Homo sapiens: one gene and its partners. The protein of the gene in region 1 binds, or shares a complex with, the protein of each later gene. Each region holds a gene or a part of one and is shown on either strand. Other genes may lie near its edges.

Region 1 (7,027 bases):
ATGTAACTTATCACTATCAAACAATCTTTGACATTCCTTTAAGGGAAAACCATTACATTATAGTTTCTTTTTGTCCATTTTTAAGCAGGGGGTATTTATATTATCAATTAGCATTATTTGAGCATTTGGCAGCACAACCCACATTTATTTCCTCATGGAAGAGACAAGTTAGAAGTTTTCCTTGTTGAAAATGAAATGCACTCCCCGAGGGCCAGACTCAGAGTTGGAGATGCTTTGTTTACTCAGGGTTTCAGCCAAGGCTTCAGGTCCACAGAGGAAAACTCCTATTCTGGTACTTTTGGGAAAGAAAAAAAAAGACAATTTCAAGCTTTGGGATGAGATGTCTACAAAGCAGGTAGGTGAATTTCCCGTTAATTTGAGGCCCCAGGGCAGAGTCCCCTCTGCTCCTTTTTCTTTTCCACAAATAGCAAAGGGATCATATTGCTCAGAGGGAGTGTGGTTCAGCCTGTTTGTGTGAGCATCTGGATAGTTCAAAAGGTAGTTGACTTCCCTGGCAAAAGTAAAATCCAACCAAGGTTTTTGGAAACTTCTATCACAGAGAAAATGGTGGTGAATTCATGAGTCCGTGGGCTACTTTCCTTCAGGGCTCTGTGCCCCCTGGCATCTTGAAATTAGGAACAAGCTAACTATGCCAACCACTCAGTGTGGCTTCATTTCTCTAAATTTTAGAGTCTGAAGCCCTGTTCAAAGTGTGGTTTCTGATCAGTAGCCTTGGCGTCAGCTTTTTAAAAAATGCAGATTACCTGGCCCTACCTCAAATCTTCTAAATTGGTATCTGCATTTTAAAGAGATCCCCAGGCACTTTGTATGCTCCTTACAGTGCAAAAAGCAATAGTCTGAAGGGTACACGTATGGTGATCTCTTGAGTTTCTTAGGTGTTCTAGCAAGATAAGGGATCCCCCTCAAGGTTTTATAATGACTAAAGTTTTAGTGAGAGCAGAAAGCACCTTGAGACATCTGTCAACTTAAGATTTTAGACCCAGAAGCTTTTAGAACTGAAAGTGGGGACAGTGTCTTCTTAACAATATGTATAAATTATATTGAATCTTTAAAAGAAGTAGATACACTAATGAAATTTAGGTGACTAAAGAAAAGAACTAAGCTGTGGCCCTACTTGGGACAGGCAGGTTGAGAAAATCTGAGATGGGGACCTGGAAATACTTGTTTTTAATTAATCTCCAGGTAATTTGGTATAATTTAAAGATCCTTCTTAAAGTTGAAGATATCTGGAATCTTCTGTTGGGCATGAATTCAATCTTTATATAGTAATATACATATTTGAGTTTCTAAAATATATAAGTTTAGATATGTATAGGGGCTGCCGCTTTAGGCAGATGCAAGCCTCAAAAACATCTTGGTGACAGACTCCTTACTTAGGGTGTTGACTTGCAATTGTCTTGAATTCATTATCCCAGTTGGGCCGTCCATACAAAGTCTTTTGTTTCAGGCCTGTGATCACATCTTTCTCCTCATCATGGTGCACAGCAAAGTGATTGGCCTACAGGAAAGGACATGAATTCAGAAAAAAAAGAGACATTCTGTAAAAGCACATACAATGTATTTACATCCTTCACAAGCTATTCTAACCAAGGCACCCTGCTGGATGCTGAAAGGTAAACAAAGATAAATAAACTGGATCTCTCTCAAGCAATTTACAGTCTAGAAAGGGAGACTTCGAAGTATAAATATAAATAATCCCATATGTCGAACAGGGTATGATGTGTGTCATGAAGGAGGCACAAGCGTCCTAATGAGAACAAAGAAGGAAGGTGAAGTGGAAGAATAGGGGAAGGGTTAGGGCCGCAGTATTTGAGTCAGGCATTGATGGATGAATAGTGTCTCACTGTTTTTCTCTCTGCTCTATGTTTGACTTTTTCTCTCCACCCTAATATACTTCCACTCCTTTGGGAGAATTACTAAGAGATGTAACAATTTTAGACTAAAATGCAGCAATACTTTGGTAGCATAAGACATCAAATCAAGCCTAAAGCTAGTGTGTGTGTATGTGTGTGTGTGCACGCACATATGTGTATATAGTCACATACTGTTTTTCTGCTACCATTCTAGGAGGCTTCAGTTTGAGCAACAGGTATTTTTCATAAAAGTGGTTAATTAAATTTATTTTTAAAAAGCAAATCAGATTTGAAATTCACTAGATGGATGATGGTCATAGAGGAGGTTAAGAAAGGTGGGCACTCCAATTTAATAATTCTATAGATATCAGTTTTGCAAAGCAAAATAATTACTTTTTCAATACAAATAAATAACTGATTTAAAAAAGAAACCTGTGCATGGCTTTTAAAATAACAGAACAGTAAAGCAATTTATATACTATAGATTTTTTTCCTGAGTTTTATTTTTATCAAAGCATTTTTGTTTTGTTTTTAAATTGCAGAACTGGCATTTTGAAACCACTTTTTATGGAGCAACAATTCTTATCGTTATGTTTCCCTAATCTATATTTGCTACAAGATTCCTTTAAGACTTGGAGAATCTGTGATAAACAATATGTTGAAACCCAAATGGGAATTCAGTCTTCACAGTGACAGGGTGCACATGGAAGATTCCCAGGGTTGTGGAGTCAATGTCTATGTATGCCCAGTTGCTACAGTTTGAATGTATCCTCTCCAAAATTCAGATGTTGCCTATGTGATAGCATTAAGAAGTGGAGCCTTAAAAAGGTGATTAAGACATGAAGGATCATCCCTTATGAATGAGTTAAGGGCTTTGGAAAAGAGTCATCACACAGTATTTGACGAGCCTTCCCTTTTTCTTTCCACCATGTGAAAACACAGTATTTCTCCCACCCAGAAGATGCAGCCTTTGCTAGACAACCAAACCTGTTGGTGTCTTGATCTTGGACTTGCCAGCCTCCAGAACTTTGAGAAAATAAATTTCTGTTCTTTACAAACTACCCAGTCTTGGGTGTTTTGTTATAGCAGCACAAATGGACTAAGACACCAGCTGAGACACTGGACAGAAATATGCAGAGACTCTTGCCTTAGCTCCTCACTCATGGTGATAGCTTATGCTGCTTCCAGGCCAAGTCATTAACGTTTGCTTACTTACAAAGATGTTACCACTCCAGGAATCATTACCTTGTTTCAGGGTTTGTCAATTTCAGCACTGTTGATATTTGGGACTGTATAATTCTTTGTTGTGGGGGGCTGTCTTTTTAATTGTAGGATATTTACATTGCCAACTGTCTCTGGTGTGTGTCTTGGGGAGGAGCAGAGCAAAATTGTCCCAGTTGAGAACTATTGGCTACTTTATTATAGTGGTCTCCAAACATTTTTGAAAGAGCACTCTCATTGTACACACACATACACACACACATACATGCATATATATCACATTCATTAGATATATAGTAATTTATTTATAAATGATAATCATGAACTACTGCAAGATGCTGAAAGGACAGGCTCTGGCACATTCTGTCTCTGTCACTTACTTGTTGGGTGCTCTTAGGAAAATGACCTAACCTGGTCTGAGTTTTTTCATCTGTAAAGTGTGGAAAATAATAAGAGCTACTTCATAGGGTTGGTGACATGATAAAATTAGACAATCTATGTGACTAGATACATAAGAATAATACCTGGCAATATATATGCATAATAATTATAAATGTAGTGAGTATATTATAAAACATACAAAAGCATATAAATTAAATGATTTTATAAATACATATATACATAGTACATATAAATATATATGATACATATATAAATACATATTAAAATATATATATACAGAATCCTTTATATGCTTATGTATGTTATATAAACAGATGCTCCTCAGCTTACAATGGTGTTATATCCTGATAAAACCATCACTAAATTGAAAATACCATAAGTCTAAAATGGGTTTAATACATCTAACTTAATAAACATCATAGTTAGTTTAGTCTAGACTACCTTAAATGTGCTCAGAACACTTATATTAGCCTACAATTGCACAAAATCATCTAACATGAACCCTATTTATAATAAAAGGTTTAAGACCACATGTAATTTATTGAATACAGTACTGAAGTATGGCTTGTACTGAAGTATGGCTTCTACTGAATGCATATTGCTTTCACTTCATTGTAAAGTTGAAAAATCATAAGTTGAACCATTATTAAGTTGGGGAGTGTCTGTTTTACACACACACACACACACACACAGAGACAGAGAGAGAGAGACAGAGAGACAGAGAGAGAGACAGAGAGAAAGAGAAAGCTAAATTTTCCCCAAAATAACCCTGTGCATCATCTCAATCACCTGGTTTCAGAGTGCCTGGTGGGAGAATTGCTCTAATAATGTCAAAGTGATGGCTTTTATTCCCTCACAGGCTCCTTGGCTTTGATTCTAATCTGAGCAGTCTAAATATAATGTGGCGATACTAAATGAGAGTGAATGGACCGGATCACCAAATCCACTAAACATACTTAGAAAAAATAGTACACAAGACACACCAATAACCAAGGGGAAGTTCGTAAGCCCTGTACACTATGGGAAGGACCTGAGCCTTGGAGTCTTGTCCTTACCTGAGACTCATCCCAGCCAGTGAGGTAGATGTTGTAGCTGAGGAAGCCGGCATTGTTCCTTTCCTGCATCTGGCTCTCCAGCAGTTGCAGCAGATCTGCAAACCACTCAAAGGCATGTGTGTCCCGGCACAGCCAGTAGAAGTAGATCTGAAAATGGGGTGGATCATGAAGCAGATTATATTTGGCAGGCCCTATCAGCATTACCATGTGGAATTCCACTTTCTGTCACCTAAACTTTTTCTTGATGCTCAGAATGCCTAGAAACATAGATTTTCAGAAGGCTCTGGACATTTCACAGGGTAGTTTACATGAACCTGCTCTGGCCTTCACTCTAGCAGGGCAGTAAATAAGTAACTTGACCTCAGAAATACACAACTTAAGAAAAAACTATTAGCCCACCAAATTTCCCTCTGAGTCTGCTCTTACTCTCCCAGAATCTCTGGCTTCCTTCGAACCTCTTCTCAGAAAGCCTGATGGAATCTAGACTAGCAGGGATTGCCACAGAAATTCTTCCCTGGCTGCTACTGCCAGACATTCATGAGTTCCGAGGGGAAAAATAAGGTTCTATGCACATCTCCTCCACATGGAAAAGAGGTACAGGGAGAATGAAAAGTCAAGGTAGGCTTAATGTCCCTATTAGAGTTTATCTTTACAGTTATTAGAATGGCCTGAGGTTTATTTAGGATGCCCTTTATTACACAATAAAACCAAATTTATAGGTAACCAAAAAATCTCCTGTGAATTGATCCTGAGGAGATATTCATAAGTAGAGTTTCAGGTCTCCTCTCCTCCCTTTGCAAAAAAAGTATTGGGTGAGTGGAGGGGGTGGGGCGCGGCTGGAAATTGAATCAATCTCAGTATCTAACACAAGATGAAAGAAAAATTATTCAATATCCTCTCAATAGAACATGAAGAGATCATTTAAAGTCATCATTATAAAGCCTGTGAAGACATTGAAAAACACTTTCTATAATGTTTTTTTAAAAGCAGGACATGAAATTATACATACTTAATATTTACAACCTTCTAAAAATATGTAAACATGGAAAATATTAGAAGAGAATATACAAAAATTACAGCTATTAAGTTGGGGCTGTGAATACTTTCCCAACTTTCTTTCTTCTGAATTTCCAGCAACACTATACAAATACAATATATTCCCTTCACTAATAGGCCTACTTATCTAGAAGCACATTAGATTTAACAAATATTCTTTTGAAGAAAAGCCTGTCTCTCTGGAACCACCGGAAGCTTTTCTTCACTTCCCATGGTCTCTGCCAACCTTAGCCCTGAAAGCACTCTCAGGCCTCACATGGCAGAGTATGGTTACTGCTCTAAGGCCCTCCGATAAATGAAAGGACTTACCTTTTTGAGCTTCAGATTGGTGGCGTTATTGCAATATTTGTACCAGACTGACTTGAGAATGGATGCGAAGGGTGTGACCCCAATCCCTGCTCCCACTAACATCACCACCTCATAGCTGAACACATCTTCACTGGCAGTGCCAAAGGGCCCATCAACCGCTATCCTGAAGGGAAATGGGGAGGAGATAGTTACAGAGATGTCTTGCTCTTCAGAGTGAGATGGGGCACCCATAATTATTGGGGATGTGCAACATGTTAATTCAAATTGGAATAATGTATCTATTGGGTGCTTCCTTCTATGAAATAGCTTTCAAGTAACCAAACTTAGTGCCAACGTTGGGTTTGGAAGTAAAAAGAGAAATATTTGGCTAACCAAAAACATTCGGTAACTCAGAACAAGTTTTTTTTTTTTTTAATCTCCCCACCCCTCTTCACACACAACAACGCCCCCTCCACACACACCCTATGTCTTGCCAGGACATCCCACTCTTGAAATTCTTGCATACGGTGCACCCTGAAGTGAGGATTTGCTGCATCATTACATCTTGTAGATTTAATGTCTCCACTTTTCATTTATCTATTCATTGAGTTATTCAACAAACTCTCAAACCTTTCTTTAGCACCTACTAAGTGCCTTATAGCATGTTAGGCATGCAGGGAAAAGGAGGCAAAGGGGCTAATATATGGCATTTAACCTCAAATAAATTATGCCAATGAAAATTTAAGAATATTTTTGATACACTACAATTATATTTGTTAGGAAAGTTAATATAACTTGGCCTTGACCCTTACATATTTAAAGGAATTTGGGAGTATTTATTTCTAATATTTGATTCAAGGTTTTCATATTTCACATAAGATTTATGAAAATATGCATAAACACACTACACATATGAAACGGTGACCACAGAAATAGCTACCTATATTCTTAGAACCTGTGTGTTTTGTTGGAGACTTAGTAAAACATGGAGGAAGAGGAGCTATTTAGTGCCATTTTTCCTGAACTCATATACGTTGGTAATATGTACTTTTTACTCACTTAGGTAGTTTCCACGCATCTTGAAACTCCTGCTTATCACAGCCACAAGCATTGAACAGCCCCTCTGTCCAG
Region 2 (7,027 bases), on another chromosome or scaffold:
GGAGCCCTGGGATGGCCCTCCCAGCATTCGTTGGGCTTCCCCGTCTCTGATATTTGTCAGGCCCCTCACCCCGTGTCTGGCCTTCCGCCAGCTGTGGGGGCAGGATCAGGCATGTACTCCTTGGTGGCCCCAGCGCTGGCTCTGCACCCGATGCATAGTAGGTGCCTAGCAAGTGCATCTGGAGGCTCGTTCGATGGCCCTGCAGGGCTCTCTGGGTCTGGCGGGAGACATTGGGAGTCAAGGTCAGTGCCTCACACCATCTCCTCGGCAGCATGTGTCTTTCTACCGTTTGCCGTGGCCCTTCCCATGGCCAGTGACTAACAGCTTTCACGCACACTCTGGGGTGGGCTGAAAGGCCCCGGAAGCAGCCCTCTTTCCCTGGAAGATGGGAGATGAATGACAGCACCCTAGCTTCCTGCCTTCTCTGGGGACGCCCTGAGCACGGTCCGTTCTGTCTCCCAGGTGGCCCCAGCAGGACTGAGAGCAGCAGCAGTCCACAGCCATGACAACTCAACCACCTGCCCTGTGTCAGCTGCTGTCCCCTCCTTTATTCCTCCCCACTCCCCTTCTGCAGCATCCTGGAGTCACTTCCCGAATAAACCCCTCACATCACCTCCTTGTCTCAGGGTTTGCTTCTGGGGGGACCCAGCCTGAGACGGGATGAACATTCATTCGACAAAATATTGCGGCTGGGCGCAGTGGCTCACGCCTGTAATCCTAGCACTTTGAGAGGCCGAGGCGGGCGGATCACTTAAGTTCAGGGGTTCGAGACCAGCCTGGTCAACATGGTGAAACCCTGTTTCTACTAAAAATACAAAAATTAGCTGGGCGTGGTGGTGCATGCCTGTAATCCCAGCTACTTGGGAGGCCGAGGCAGGAGAATCACTTGAACCCAGGGGGCAGAGTTTGCAGTGGGCCGAGATGGTGCCACTGCACTCCAGCCTGGGCGACAGAGCGTGATTCCATTTCAAAAAACAAACAAACAAACAAAAAACAACAAAAAGCAAACATTGAGTGGCAGCATAGGGAGAGAGGTAAGTTTATTCTCATCAAGACTGGGAGGAAAAGTTACACAGCCTCAATTACCTTTCCAAAGGACAGGTACGGGTAGGAAAAGGATTAAGAGACAATCTTTTTTTCTTCTTGTTAACTTGTATTACATTTTTAAAAAATATAATGAATCAGTAATGAAACAAATAAAGAAACCCAATTGCAAATGCTGTGTGACTTTGGGCCAGTCGCAGACTGTCTCTAGGTCTCAGCCTCCGAGGAATGACATGGAGCTGGACCACAATTCCCAGGTTCTGGGGTTTGAGATTGACCTTACCTCCGCCTTGCCTGCTCCCCACAGGTTTGACAACTATTCAGCCAATGTGATGGTGGACAGCAAGCCAGTGAACCTGGGGCTGTGGGACACTGCTGGGCAGGAGGACTACGACCGTCTCCGGCCGCTCTCCTATCCACAGACGGTGTGCTGCTCCCACCTGCCTTGCAGTCCTGACCTTTGCTGTCTCTGTTCCCTCTGCTTGGGATGCCCTTCCAGCCAGCTCAGCCTGGGAAACCCTACCTCTCCCCTTAAGGCCCAGCTCAGGGAGTCTGCCTGCCTTGCATGTCCCAGGCAGAGAAGGGCTTCCTCTTGCACTCCCTCAGCCCTGCATTGGTTCCCGGTCCTCAATGTGCCCATCTTCCCACCCCATTGCCTCCTGGGCTCTGGCACCCCCTGTTTCCAGTGGTGGGGCAGGTGGATTCTGCACAGGGCCCCAGGAGGCAGCCCAGCATGGTGAGCCCTGGGAGTGCTGGGGGAGGGGAGAGGTGGAGGATGCCTGCAGGTGGCTGCTGGGTCCTCGCCCTTCCTCCAGGGTATGCAGGGAGGCGGCTAAGGCCGGTAATCAGATGGTGGATAGTATATGGATTGGAGTATGGACTCTAGAATCCCAGATCCTCCCCTCACCAGAGTGCACGTTGGCAAACTCTTTAACCTCTGGAAGCCTCACTTTCCCTGTCTGAGGAATGGGGCTACCAGCAGTGCTTGCTGCAGAGTGACATGTGAGGATAACCACTTCGCAGAGGCCCTGGCCTTTAGTGAGCGTCCTAACAAACAGCAGCCTCGTGGTAGAGGCGAGAAGGGTATCTCTGCTCTGCCCAGATCCTAAGTCCCCAGCATTCCCTGGGGTGTTCCACCCTCAGGGAGCCCCAAGCTCCACCTCTCGGTGGCTGCCATGGTGGGACACCTCTGGGCCCTCCTCACTAGCAACCTCGCTTGCTCTGTCCCCAGGACGTCTTCCTCATCTGCTTCTCCCTCGTCAGCCCAGCCTCTTATGAGAACGTCCGCGCCAAGGTGAGCTGGACAGGGTGGGCCTTGGGGGCTCTGGGGCAGGTAACCCTGAGGGACAGAGGGAGGAACTGGTGACTCTAGGCTGGTCCCTGGGGCAGCAGAGGTCGCATACAGAGAGGGTCCCCAGTGCCAACCAGGGCTGGCAGAGGGACTTGAGGGGGTAAGATTCAGAGGACCTGGGGTGGGGGGTGCTGCGATAGTTAGCTATACCCCCACTTTCCATGGCTGCATTCTCCTCCTCCCCACACAACCTCATGTCCGCCTCCGATTGTCACATAACCTCATGTTTGCTTCTTATGTCTGCACAAAACCTCGCCTCCTCCTTTCCTACAATCATGCGCCCCCTCCTTCCTGCACAACGTCGTGGCCTCCCCTCCCTGTGCCACCTCACGTCTCTCTCTCCTCACCGTCGTGCCCACCTCTGATCTTCTGGCAACTTGCTGCCTCTCCTCTCCCTACACCCTCACACTCCCTCTGATCCCCGCACAGCCTCGCGCCCCCTCTTGACCCATACAACCTTGTGTCCCCCCACCCACCTGCCCAGTGGTTCCCAGAAGTGCGGCACCACTGCCCCAGCACACCCATCATCCTGGTGGGCACCAAGCTGGACCTGCGGGACGACAAGGACACCATCGAGAAACTGAAGGAGAAGAAGCTGGCTCCCATCACCTACCCGCAGGGCCTGGCACTGGCCAAGGAGATTGGTATGGGCCTCGGGCTCAGAGGGGCGATCTGGCTGCAGGGGAGGCCCTGACTTGGCCTCGTGGTGTGATTGTAAACACGGGCTGCAGGGCCAGGCTGTGCAGTTTGAACTCAGCTGTGCTGTGCACTTGCTGTGTGACCTTGGGCGAGTCACGTAGCCTCTCTCTGCCTGTGTTTCCTTATCAGAAAAGCATGGGATAGTGATAGCTCCTGCCTCCTGGGGTGGTTGGGGGAATTCAGTAACTTATTCCAGGTGGAGCTGCCAGGGCAGCACCTGTGTGTGAGAAGCACTCTGTGTTAGTAGTAGTCGTCCTAGTAGTATGAGTAGTATCTATTAATAGATACTGAAAATAAGGAGGTGTGCTTTGAGCAGACAGAAGCAGAGATTGAGTGGGGGTGCTGTGGTTGCTTGGAGGACAAGTGGCAAGTCAAACTTGGGTGTTCTGGGAAGGCTTCCTGGAGGAGGTGGCGCTGCATTAGATCTAAAGGGTGACACATTTCCTTCCACCACCTTCTCTCCTCCCTTTCCCCACTCCCTTTGGTTTCTCAGCTCGACCCCTCTTTGCCTCCAAATCACTGGGCTGGAGAAATATAGTAACTTCTCAAGGTCACCCAGCTAGTAGGTGGCCCAGCCAGATTTGAAGGAAGGACAGCAAATTATTGGCTCACTGCTGGGGGGTGCTTCTTTGTAGTGGCTCAGGGCTGCCTGCATCAGGGAGGCGATGACCATGGGTCTGGCTTCATGCATGGTACCCAGGCCTGCTGGCTGTTCCTGTCCCTGTCCCTGGTAGGTCCCAATGTGTCTGTAGCTCAGGGATCCTTGCCCAAAAGCCCAAAACCACCAGCTGGGTTTGGTCATATGAGCTGTGCCCTCTGCCTCACCACAGGACTCTGCAGGCCCAGGGTTTGGCCCCCAAATTGAATCCACTAGACCTCCTCCCGCCCCACCGCCCCAGCCCCGCCCCACCTCCCCCTGCCGGAACTGGGAGGGCCCTGGGGACTCACATCTCTTCACAGGAAGAGAAACCGCAGCCACCACCTCCCTCCTTCTGTGACTAGCGTGGTGACACAGCCATCTTCCCCGGGGGCCTCAGACTATGGCTCACACCCTGGCTCCCTTCCCCTGTCCTAGGGCCACAGCTCCCCAGCCTGCAAGTCTTTCCTTTTAAATATCAAGGATTCATCCCTGCCTTCTCTTTCTGACCAACCAGCACCCCTCCAACCCCTGCCCCTGGACTCCTTCTATTCAGGGTGCAGCTCTCCAGCCTGTGGCCTGGCTGTCACTGACCTCTCCCTTGTAAAGCACATGCTTTGGGATCATGTGGAGGGTGCTGGAGGCCTGGATTCTGGTCCTGGCTCTGATACTGATTGGCTGTGTGACCTTGGGTTAGTGGCTGCCCCTCTCTGGGCCTCAGTCTCCCTCTCCACATAAGCTGACCTGGACAATCCCCAAAGGCCCTCTCTCCTCCATAAGGTGGTGACTCAGAGTTCTTGCCTTGGCCTCTAGCCAGTCTTTCCTGGCTGACCCTGCATGGAGCTGGGGCAGGGGCAGTGATTTTAACTGTGCCTCAGACCAGCTTAGGCCTAGGGGGAGTCCTGGGGGGACTGGCAGGGATAGTGAGGGAAGCAGCAACTGCCTCTGCCCACCTGGACTCCCCAGCCCTGGGATGACAAGTTTTGGGGGCAGCCCTGAGCCCAGCTGATAATCACAGCTGATGTGGACTGAGCACTTCCTGGGAGCCACTTCATTCTCACAGCAGCTATGACGAAGAGCTCTTGTCACCTTCACTTTACAGAGAGGAAACAGGCTCGGGGGGACATGTTGCTGGCTTAAGGCCACCCAGCCAGGATTCTGACAGGGGTGGACTGGCTCCCTAAGCCACAAAGCTGAGGGCCATCTGTCCTCCCTGCACCTCCACTGCCCCCACCGCCCCCTCACCCTCCTTGCCCTCTCTGTAGCTCCCCTGCCCCCTGCCTCAGCTTGATGAGCCATCGCATGGCAATGAGTCCTAGACAGATGGGAGACTGAGGCCCGGAGAGGGGGAACTGACTAAAGTCCTAGAGCAGTGAGAGGCCGAGCCAAAGTGAGCCCTGGCCCCCCAGCTCAGGACCCTTGTCCTGGGTGAGTGGGTGGCTGGGTGCCAGGGAAAAGGCAGTTGGTGGATGTGGGGGAAGTGGACGCAGATGTGGTCCCTTATAAGGAGACAGTGGCCAAGTGCCCAGTGACACCTCCTCAACACAGGGGGCTGTGGTGACCAGACTCCGGGCTGAGCTCAGGGCACCCTGCTCTTGCCAGCCAAGCCCCATGACAACCACTGCCCATGATCCCTGGTGGGCGTATATGCCTCCAGGTAGAGGGGAGACGCCCAGCATGTGACTCAGAGCGAGTGACATCCTCTCTGAGCCTCAGGCTCCTCGTCCCTGCCCCACCCTTCCTTTCTCCCCAGCACCTGGCCTCAGTGGGCTCCCCTGTTCCAGGGGCTGCCCCTCCTGCCATCCCGACTTCTCCCCCCAGCTCTGTGCCTTCGGGCCTTGGCTTCCCCACTCTGGGCCTGTTTCCTGGTCTGTGAAATGGGAACTCACCCCGGTGTTGTTGGAAGCACCCAGCTCAGTGCCTGGCACAGGGTAGGTGGTGACCAGCGTCCATCCCCTTCCATCCTGCCACAGAGAAGCAAGCGGGCTTTGGCGGAGGGCCCAGAGTTCCCCTCCCCTCCCTTCTCCTTCCTCTTGGTTCTGACATCGGCCCCCAGGCCTGCATAGCATCTCGGCAGAAGGGGTTTTGTGGTTTTTCACTTCAGGGAAACTGTGCAGCTTGAAATGGACATGGGAAGTCACACGGACTCTTTGCAGAATGTCATGGAACGCCGTCCCTGGGGGTGGGAACTAGGCCTGCCTTTCTCCTCATCTGTGCCCCGGGCTCTAGCCCTGAGGGGTCTTCATGTGGGAGAAGGCTGGGCCTCCCATGGCAGGACAGAGGAGCTCTCCAATGCCACTCCTCCCAGAAGGCCCCCAGCTGGGCCCAGGTTGAGGGAATACATCCAGCGTGTGAGTTTGGATGAGTCGCATACTCTCCAGGAGCCTCAGTTTCCTTGTCTGTAAGACAGGGACGGTGCTAAGGAAGGGGCTGATGATGTTGGGAAGTTCCTGGGGAGGGGGCCCTGAGGGCTTCAGGCCTCCTGGGGATTATTTGCAACCCTGGGAGAATCCTGGAGGGATGGGCAAGACAATTTTCTAGAAGGTGAGGCTCCCAGAGATTTGGTCACTGATGCTTGAGCCCTTTCCTTCACAGAAAAGCATCAAAATTCCCGCCCTCCTTCCACGGACTAAGGGCTATGTGTCCAAGAAAGACACAGACCTGCCCTGGAGGCCTTAGTCTCTCACTGAGTTCACGCTCGCTATTACAGACATGAGGAAACTGAGGCACGGTGACGTTAAACTCCTTGCTCCTGGTGACACAGCCTCCAGGTGACCCCACTGGGACTGGATGGCGGCCCCCAGAGCCTGGTGTTCAGTTGTATGGCTTGGGAGGGGGTGTACGGCATGGAGGGGTGTATGGCGTGGGAGGGGGTGTATGGGGTGGGAGGGGTTGTATGGCATAGGAGGGGTGTATGGCGTGGGAGGGGTGTATGGTGTGGGAGGCGTGGGAGGGGTATATGGCGTGGGAGGCATGGGAAGGGGTGTATGGCGTGGGAGGGGGTGTATGGCGTGGGAGGGGTGTATGGCATGGGAGGCGTGGGAGGGATGTATGGCGTGGGAGGGGGTGTATGGCGTGGGAGGGCTTGTATGGCATGGGAGGCATGGGAGGAGTGTATGGTGTGGGAGGGGTGTATGGCGTGGGAGGGGTGTATGGCGTGGGAGGGTGTATGGCGTGGGAGGGGTATATGGCGTGGGAGGGGTGTATGGCGTGGGAGGGGTGTATGGCGTGGGAGGCGTGGGAGGGGTGTATGGCATGGGAGGGTGTATGGCGTGGGAGGGGTGTATGGCGTGGGA
Region 3 (7,027 bases), on another chromosome or scaffold:
GCTCATTTTCAGCAAGAGAGCTAGCTGGCCACTAGAGCTACCCTCTGCAGGGTTTCCAGAAGGCCTGAGTGTAGAGCAGTCACACAAAATACACCTGACTTAACAAGCCTCCCAATAACATTTTCAAAGTGAGTGTTAACTGATGATACAAATGTTTAAATTCATGTGAAGTTGCTACACAAATTAGTCAGGAGAGATAACCCAGCAAAGCCTATAGGCTGACAGAGGGAAATCAGACTGATGTTAAAAATTGCTACTGGTCAGCAGAAACCAAGCTTTAGAAGAAAATAGTGTTTCCTCTGCACAGGAAGGCAAAAAAGAAAAAAAAAAAAAGGAAAAATATAATAAAAAGCAGAGGCTGGGCACGGTGGCTCACGCCTGTAATCCCAGCACTTTGGGAGGCCGAGGTGGGCGGATCACCTGAGGTCAAGAGTTCGAGACCAGCCTGGCCAACATGACGAAACTTTGTGTCTACTAAAAATGCAAAAATTAGCCAGGGCGTGGTGACAGGCACCTGTAGTCCCAGCTACTTGGGAGGCTGAGGCAAGAGAATCGCTTGAACCCGGGAAGCAGAGGTTGCAGTGGGCCAAGTTGCGCCACTGCACTCCGGCCTGGGCAACAAGTGCGAAACTCGGTCTCAAGAAAAAAGAAGAAGAAGAAAGAAAAGGTGTGATGGTGATGGACATGTTAATTATATTTCCATAAGAAAAAAATTATTGGATAAATAGTATTGTGACTTTTTTTCCCCATAAGGGAAAAAGAATCAGGTCCTTGCCTCATTCTATACCAAAAATAAGTCCTAAATGAATTAAAGATAAAAATTTTAGCCACAAAAATCCTAGAAAAAAATACTAGAGCATACTTTTGCATTATTTAAGTAGGAAAGGCCTTTCTAAGTACAACATACAATTCTGAGGGAGAGGTGGTATTATCATTATTATTATTATTTTTTTTTTGAGACAGAATCTCACTGTCACCCAGGCTGGAGTGCAGTGGTGCGATCTCGGCTCACTGCAACCTCCACCTCCTGGGTTCAAGTGATTCTCCTGCCTCAGCCTCCTGAGGAGCTGGGATTACAGGTGCACGCCACCATGCCCGGTTAATTTTTGTATTTTTAGTAGAGATGGGGTTTCACCATGTTGATCAGGCTGGTCTTGATCTCCTGACCTCATAATGCGCCCACCTCAGCTTCCCAAAGTGCTGGAATTACAGGTGTGAGCCACCGTGCCCGGGTAAGGTGGTATTATTTACATTAAATGCTAAATTTCTATATGGCAGAAGACACCATAATGAAGTACAAAGACAAATGACAGACTGAGGATTATTTACAAAACGTTCCATCAGGCTACGTGCAGTGGAGCATGCTACTCAATAGGCTGAGGTGGAAGGACCAGTACTTCAAGTCCGGCCTGGGCAATACTGCAAGACCCCATCTCAAAAAAAAAAAAAAAAAAAAAGGGAGGGAGGGAGGGAGCAAGGGAGGGAGGGGAAAAGAAAGGAGAAGGAAGGAGGGAAGGAGGGAAGGAGTAGGAGAGGAGGGAAGGAGGGAGAGAGGGAGGGAGAGGAGGAGGGAGGGAAGAAAGGAAGGGAGGAAGGGAGGGAGAGAGGGAGGGAGGGAAGGAAGGAAGGAAATGTTCCATCAGTAAGAAAAAATTTCAGTAGAAAAATACAAAAGATTTAAACAGACAATTCACAAGAGACTAAAAATGTACAGTAAACATTCAAAAGAGCCAGGTGTGGTGGCTCACGCCTGTAATCCCAACACTTCGGGAGACCAAGGTGGAGAATCACCTGAGGCCAGGTCTTCAAGACCAGCCTGGGCAATATAGCAAAACATAGCTCTACAAAAACACATATTTTTTTTTTCTTTTTTGGAGACAATGTCTTGTTCTGTTGCCCAGGCTGGAGTGCAGAGGCACAATCTTGGCTCACTGCAACCTCCACCTCCCAGGTTCAAGCAATCCTCCTGCCTCAGCCTCCCGAATAGCTGGGATTATAGTCATGTGCCACCATGCCCAGCTAATTTTTGTATTTTTAGTAGAGACAGGGTTTCACCATCTTGGCCAAGTTGGTCTCAAACTCCTTACCTCAGTGATCCGCCCAGCTCAGCCTCCCCAAGTGCTGGGATTACAGGCGTGAGCAAACTTTTTTAATTAAAAAAAAAAAAAATTCAAAAGATTTTAACCACATCTGTGATTGGAAATGAAAACGGTTAGATAACTTCAACCCACGTTAATGGCAGTGTGTACTAAGAGGCCACTTAAGTCAAGGCCAGCAAAGTGACAGCTTTATAGACAGCAATTTGGTAGTTATCTACCAAAAAATAATTTTTTAATTTTTTTTTTTTTTTGGGAGACAGAGTCTCACTCTGTTACCCAGGCTGAAGTGCAGTGGCACAATCTTGGCTCACTGCAACCTCTGCTTCCCGGGTTCAAGCAATTCTCATGCCTCAGCCTCCTGAGTAGCTGGGACTACAGGAGTGCACCACCACACCCGGCTAACTACTGTATTTTTAGCAGAGGTGGGGGTTTTAACATGTTGGCCAGGTTGGTCTCGAACTCCTGACCTCAAGTGATCCTTCCGTCTTGGCCTCCCAAAGTGCTGGGATTACAGGCGTGAGCAATCACGCCCAGCTGTATCTACCAAAATTTAAAACATCCATTGTCTTTTGATTTGGCACGATTTTGCTTCTAATAATCTATCAAGTGTACACAAAGACATAAGGGACAACACTGAACCCAGCAATGTTTGTTAACACCAAGAGTCCAAGTGACCAGTGGGTTAAATCAGTTATAGTACTTCAAAATCATTAATCATTAATGATTAAACCTTTATCTACATATGTAGATAAGGAAAATCTCCCCCATAAATTTAGGACAACAGGGACAGCATGATTCCACTTACAGTAAAAAATGGGTGCCGTGGCTCACGCCTGTAATCCCAGCACTTTGGGAGGCTGAAGTGGGCAGATCACCTGAGGTCAGGAGTTTGAGACCAACCTGGCCAACATGGTGAAACCCGTCTCTACTAAAGAAACAAAAATTAGCCAGGTGTGGTGGTGTATGCCTGTAATCACAGCTACCTGGGAGGCTGAGGCAGAGAATCACTTGAACCCAGGAGGCAGACGCTGCAGTGAGCTGAGATCGCATCACAGCACTCCATCCTGGGCAAGAGAGAGAGACTAACTCCAAAAAAAAAAAAAAAAAAGGAAAACAACAACAACAACAACAAAAACATGGGTACGACACTTCAGAGAGCACCTGGGTGTGTGTTGTGCCTGAGGAGGTGAACACAGGTGGGGAGGAGGCGACACCTCCCCAGCCTGCACAGGGAGGACTCACAGCAGCTGCAGGATGGTGCATTATGAGGCTCAGCTACGTGCGCTCCCGGGTAACCCATCACCAGAGCAGCACTTTCCTGTCTCCACCCAATTCTGCTGCCTATAGGGAGTAAGCAATTCAATAGCCAATTCCACCCTCCCATTCCCCCTTCAACACACACACCCAAGTTTCAATTCCAAAGCCCTACACCTCAATGCGGACATGTAACCAACTGATGACTTATCAGAAAAGGCCAATTAAAACGTAATGGAATCTTTCCCTTTCCAGTTCCCAGAAAGCCAGTGTATCTGAAACTCGTGCACTGACAAGGACTGTTTCTGATCAGACTTTTGGTCAGAGTTCTTGTGTCCAACTATGGTTTTCTTTAACATCATCCAGTCTCTGTACCTCACAGACAGTTAAAGTTTGCTTTCTGGATGTCTAAAAATCAACTAGCAAAGTTGTGAAAAGTTTATATTACCCTAAGTTTCTTTTTTTTTTTTCTTTTGAGATGGAGTTTCGCTCTCATTGCCCAGGCTGGAGTGCAGTGGCGTGATCTTGGCTCACTGCAACCTCCGCCTCCACGGTTCGAGTGATTCTCCTGCCTCAGCCTCCCAAGTATGTGGGATTACAGGCACCCGCCACCACACCTGGCTAATTTTTTGTATTTTTAGTAGAGATGGGGTTTCATCACGTTGACCATGCTGGTCTCGAACTCCTGACCCTCAGTTGATCCACCCGCCTCAGTCTCCCAAAGTGCTGAGATCACCACCCCCAGCCCTATTTTTTAAAAGCCTAATATACCTTATAATTAGGTTTCAGTGAATGTTTAAGAAAAAATTAGTATCTGTTCATATGAGGATTAAAGATGGCTTTACAGCAAAACAAATGGTCAAAGAAATGTGAAACCCGTAACACAAACAGGTTAATTCCCAATTTAAGATACTTACACAGTAGGGATATATTCTCCAGGAAATGCATTGGTTGTGTAACTGATCAGTAGGCAAGTTTTACCTACAGCTCTAAAGAGAAAGAGAAAAAAGGTTGCTTAGTCAACATGAATGTAATCTTAGCTTTCACTATTAAGTTAAAATAATTTCTAGAGAAAAAAAATCAAGGCATATACATCACATACTTAGCATTAAAGAAAATGTTTTCTATAACCCTTTATCACCACATACACATTGGTACCCTGAAATTTAAAGTAAACAAACTAGAATTTCTCAGAAAGATAGAGTCAGGAGCCATCACATTCTGTTTAGGTACCCGGTGTTAGCATTAATAGTCAAGAAACAGTTGTCACCTAGCTACAAGACTCAAGAGAAACAAGATTTTAAAACTTCACGTCTCTTCTGTGAACATCTGTAGAGCCTCTCATCAAGAATCTTAAGTTTGATCCTGAAGATATTTTCTTTTTTTCTTTTTTTTCTTTTTTTTTTTTTTTTGAGACCGAGTCTCGTGCTGTCGCCCCAGCTGGAGTGCAGTGCAGAGGCACCATCTTGGCTCACTGCAACCTCTGCCTCCCAGGTTCAAGCGATTCTCCTGCCTCAGCCTCCCAAGTAGCTGGGATTACAGCTGTCCACCACCACGCCTGGATAATTTTTTTGTATTTTTAGTAGAGATGGGTTTTCGCCATGTTGGCCAGGCTGGTCTCGAACTCCTGACCTCAAGTGATCCGCCCACCTGGACCTCCCAAAGTGCTGGGATTACAGGCTGGAGCCACCACACCCAGCCTAAAGGTATTTTAATTAACACTAATATACAAACACAGCCTTCCTCTTTAAGTAACTTATTCTGCTGCCTTAAGTGGGACAGCTCAAAATCCCACCACATCCCTACAGCCTCCCCTATGGCAATCAGCAATGACTGTTCTCTTGAGAGAAAGTGCTTAGTCAATAAACTACCACACGTAACTGCCATCACATTGATTCAGCTGTATTTAAATGCCACCTCCCCCAGCCCCAATCCTCACACAGCACCATAAGTCTATAAGCAGGGACTATCACAATACATCCCAGACATTTAATTAACAGCTCAGAGACGATGGGAGTTAAACTTGCCAAACAGAGAAGTGTGTAGAAATACTTCAGAGAAAGGAGCACCACCTGCACAACTGGCAATGGGTAGAGACTAATCCTAATATTACCAGTGTGCCGCCAGGCAGAAGAGTGGTGGCTGAAAGTCTCCCAACCACCTGGAATGTTTTTCAAGAGGCTATCACCTAATAACTAAGGTCACCACATCATTAGCAAAACATAAAGGTCTCCAATTTTTACAGCATTGACAAGGCAAGCTTAAGGGCTTACATGAGAATTCAAGTCTCTGGCATCCTGAGGGTTCAGTTAGCCAAGTGCTCTCCTTAATGAGCCCTTCTCTCTGCTGTGCTGTCAGTTTACCAAGGTCACAATGACACATCAGCATCATAATTTTAAGATTTTTGTCGTTCAATCTCAACTACTATAAATTAGAATTCACCATAAAGTTAAGCGCTTTTCCATTTTCCCTCACACTCAAGGCAGATTACAGGCCCAGCCAGTCTTGCCAATATTCATTCACTCATGACATTATTGAGGGCTTAACAAAAGTTGGAACTCCCCATTCCAAAGACTTTAGAGAGTCAAACATTACATCACCAGGAAGTAGCTTCCAACTCCTAAAGGCTTTCTAAACAGAAATGACTCATTGGACATACATTTCGTTAAAAGCTTAGAATGTGAAAATAAACCTGTATGAGCAGGAGCCTAAGCTTTGGAGTCAGAAGCCCAGATTTGAGACCCAGGGCCAATTCTAGCACGTACTGGCTGTATTTTTTGGCAAGTTTCAACTTCCTCATGCCTTTTTTTTTCACCTGCAAAATTAATGCAGAACTACCAGCTCCATCCCCAAACTACTGTGAGCATTAATTCAATTTCAATTTATATCAACCGTGTGCTACACCAGAAGCACACTAGGTGCTAAAGATGTATCAATGAACAAGACCTCATGAAGTAAGTGCAGTTGTTAAATTTAAAAATTAAGAATGCAATCATCACATGAAATTATGCGTGTGATAACTGTCATTATTAAAGCAGCTCTGGAAATGTACAGCAAAAGAGCTAACATTTCTAGAGCTGAAAAAAATATTTTTAGGCCAGGCATGGTGGCTCATGCCTGTAATCCTAGCACTTTGGGAGGCTGAGGTGGGTGGATCGCTTGAGCCCAGGAGTTCAAGACCAGCTGGGCCAACATGGAGAAACCCGTTCTCTACTAAAAATACAAAAATTAGGTGGGTGTGGCGGTGTGCAGCAGTAGTCTCAGCTACTTGGGGGGCTGAGGCACGAGGATCACTTGAACCCAGGAGGGAGGTCAAGGCTGCAGTGAAACAAGATTGCACCAGTGCATCCAGTCTGAGGGACAAAGTGAGACCCTGTCTCAAAAAAATAAATTTTTTTAAATTAAAAAATAAAAGCCTGGTGCAGTGGCTTAGGCCTGTAATCCCAGCACAGGAGGCTATAATCCCAGCACAGGGGCCTGAGGTGGGAGGATCGCTGAGCCCAGGAGTTCAAGACCAGCCTGGGCAACATAGGGAGACCTTGTTTCCACAAAAAATTCAAAAATAAGTGGTGGCTCTTGCCTGTAGTCCCAGCTACTCAGGAGGCTGAAGCAAGAGGATCCCTTCAGCCCAGGAATTCAGGGCAGCAGTGAGCTGTGATCACACCACTCCACCC

The links. Proteins that work in one complex are often made in the same cells at the same time.
Region 2: CYBB (region 1) and RAC2 share a complex: the UniProt entries of both Homo sapiens proteins name them as parts of the phagocyte NADPH oxidase complex.
Region 3: CYBB (region 1) and RAC1 share a complex: the UniProt entries of both Homo sapiens proteins name them as parts of the phagocyte NADPH oxidase complex.

Annotation. Positions count from the first base shown.
Region 1 is NC_000023.11:37,804,059-37,811,085, reverse strand, and holds part of CYBB (NADPH oxidase 2), read right to left. Parts: coding exon 6,956-7,027; intron 6,081-6,955; coding exon 5,918-6,080; intron 4,700-5,917; coding exon 4,553-4,699; intron 1,520-4,552; coding exon 1,395-1,519; intron 296-1,394; coding exon 169-295; 3' UTR 1-168. UniProt on the Homo sapiens protein: Catalytic subunit of the phagocyte NADPH oxidase complex that mediates the transfer of electrons from cytosolic NADPH to O2 to produce the superoxide anion (O2(-)).
Region 2 is NC_000022.11:37,227,243-37,234,269, reverse strand, and holds part of RAC2 (ras-related C3 botulinum toxin substrate 2), read left to right. Parts: intron 1-1,351; coding exon 1,352-1,469; intron 1,470-2,275; coding exon 2,276-2,338; intron 2,339-2,879; coding exon 2,880-3,039; intron 3,040-6,326; coding exon of another isoform or gene 6,327-6,364; exon of another isoform or gene 6,365-6,531; intron 6,532-7,027. UniProt on the Homo sapiens protein: Plasma membrane-associated small GTPase which cycles between an active GTP-bound and inactive GDP-bound state.
Region 3 is NC_000007.14:6,384,527-6,391,553, reverse strand, and holds part of RAC1 (ras-related C3 botulinum toxin substrate 1), read right to left. Parts: intron 4,343-7,027; coding exon 4,271-4,342; intron 1-4,270. UniProt on the Homo sapiens protein: Plasma membrane-associated small GTPase which cycles between active GTP-bound and inactive GDP-bound states.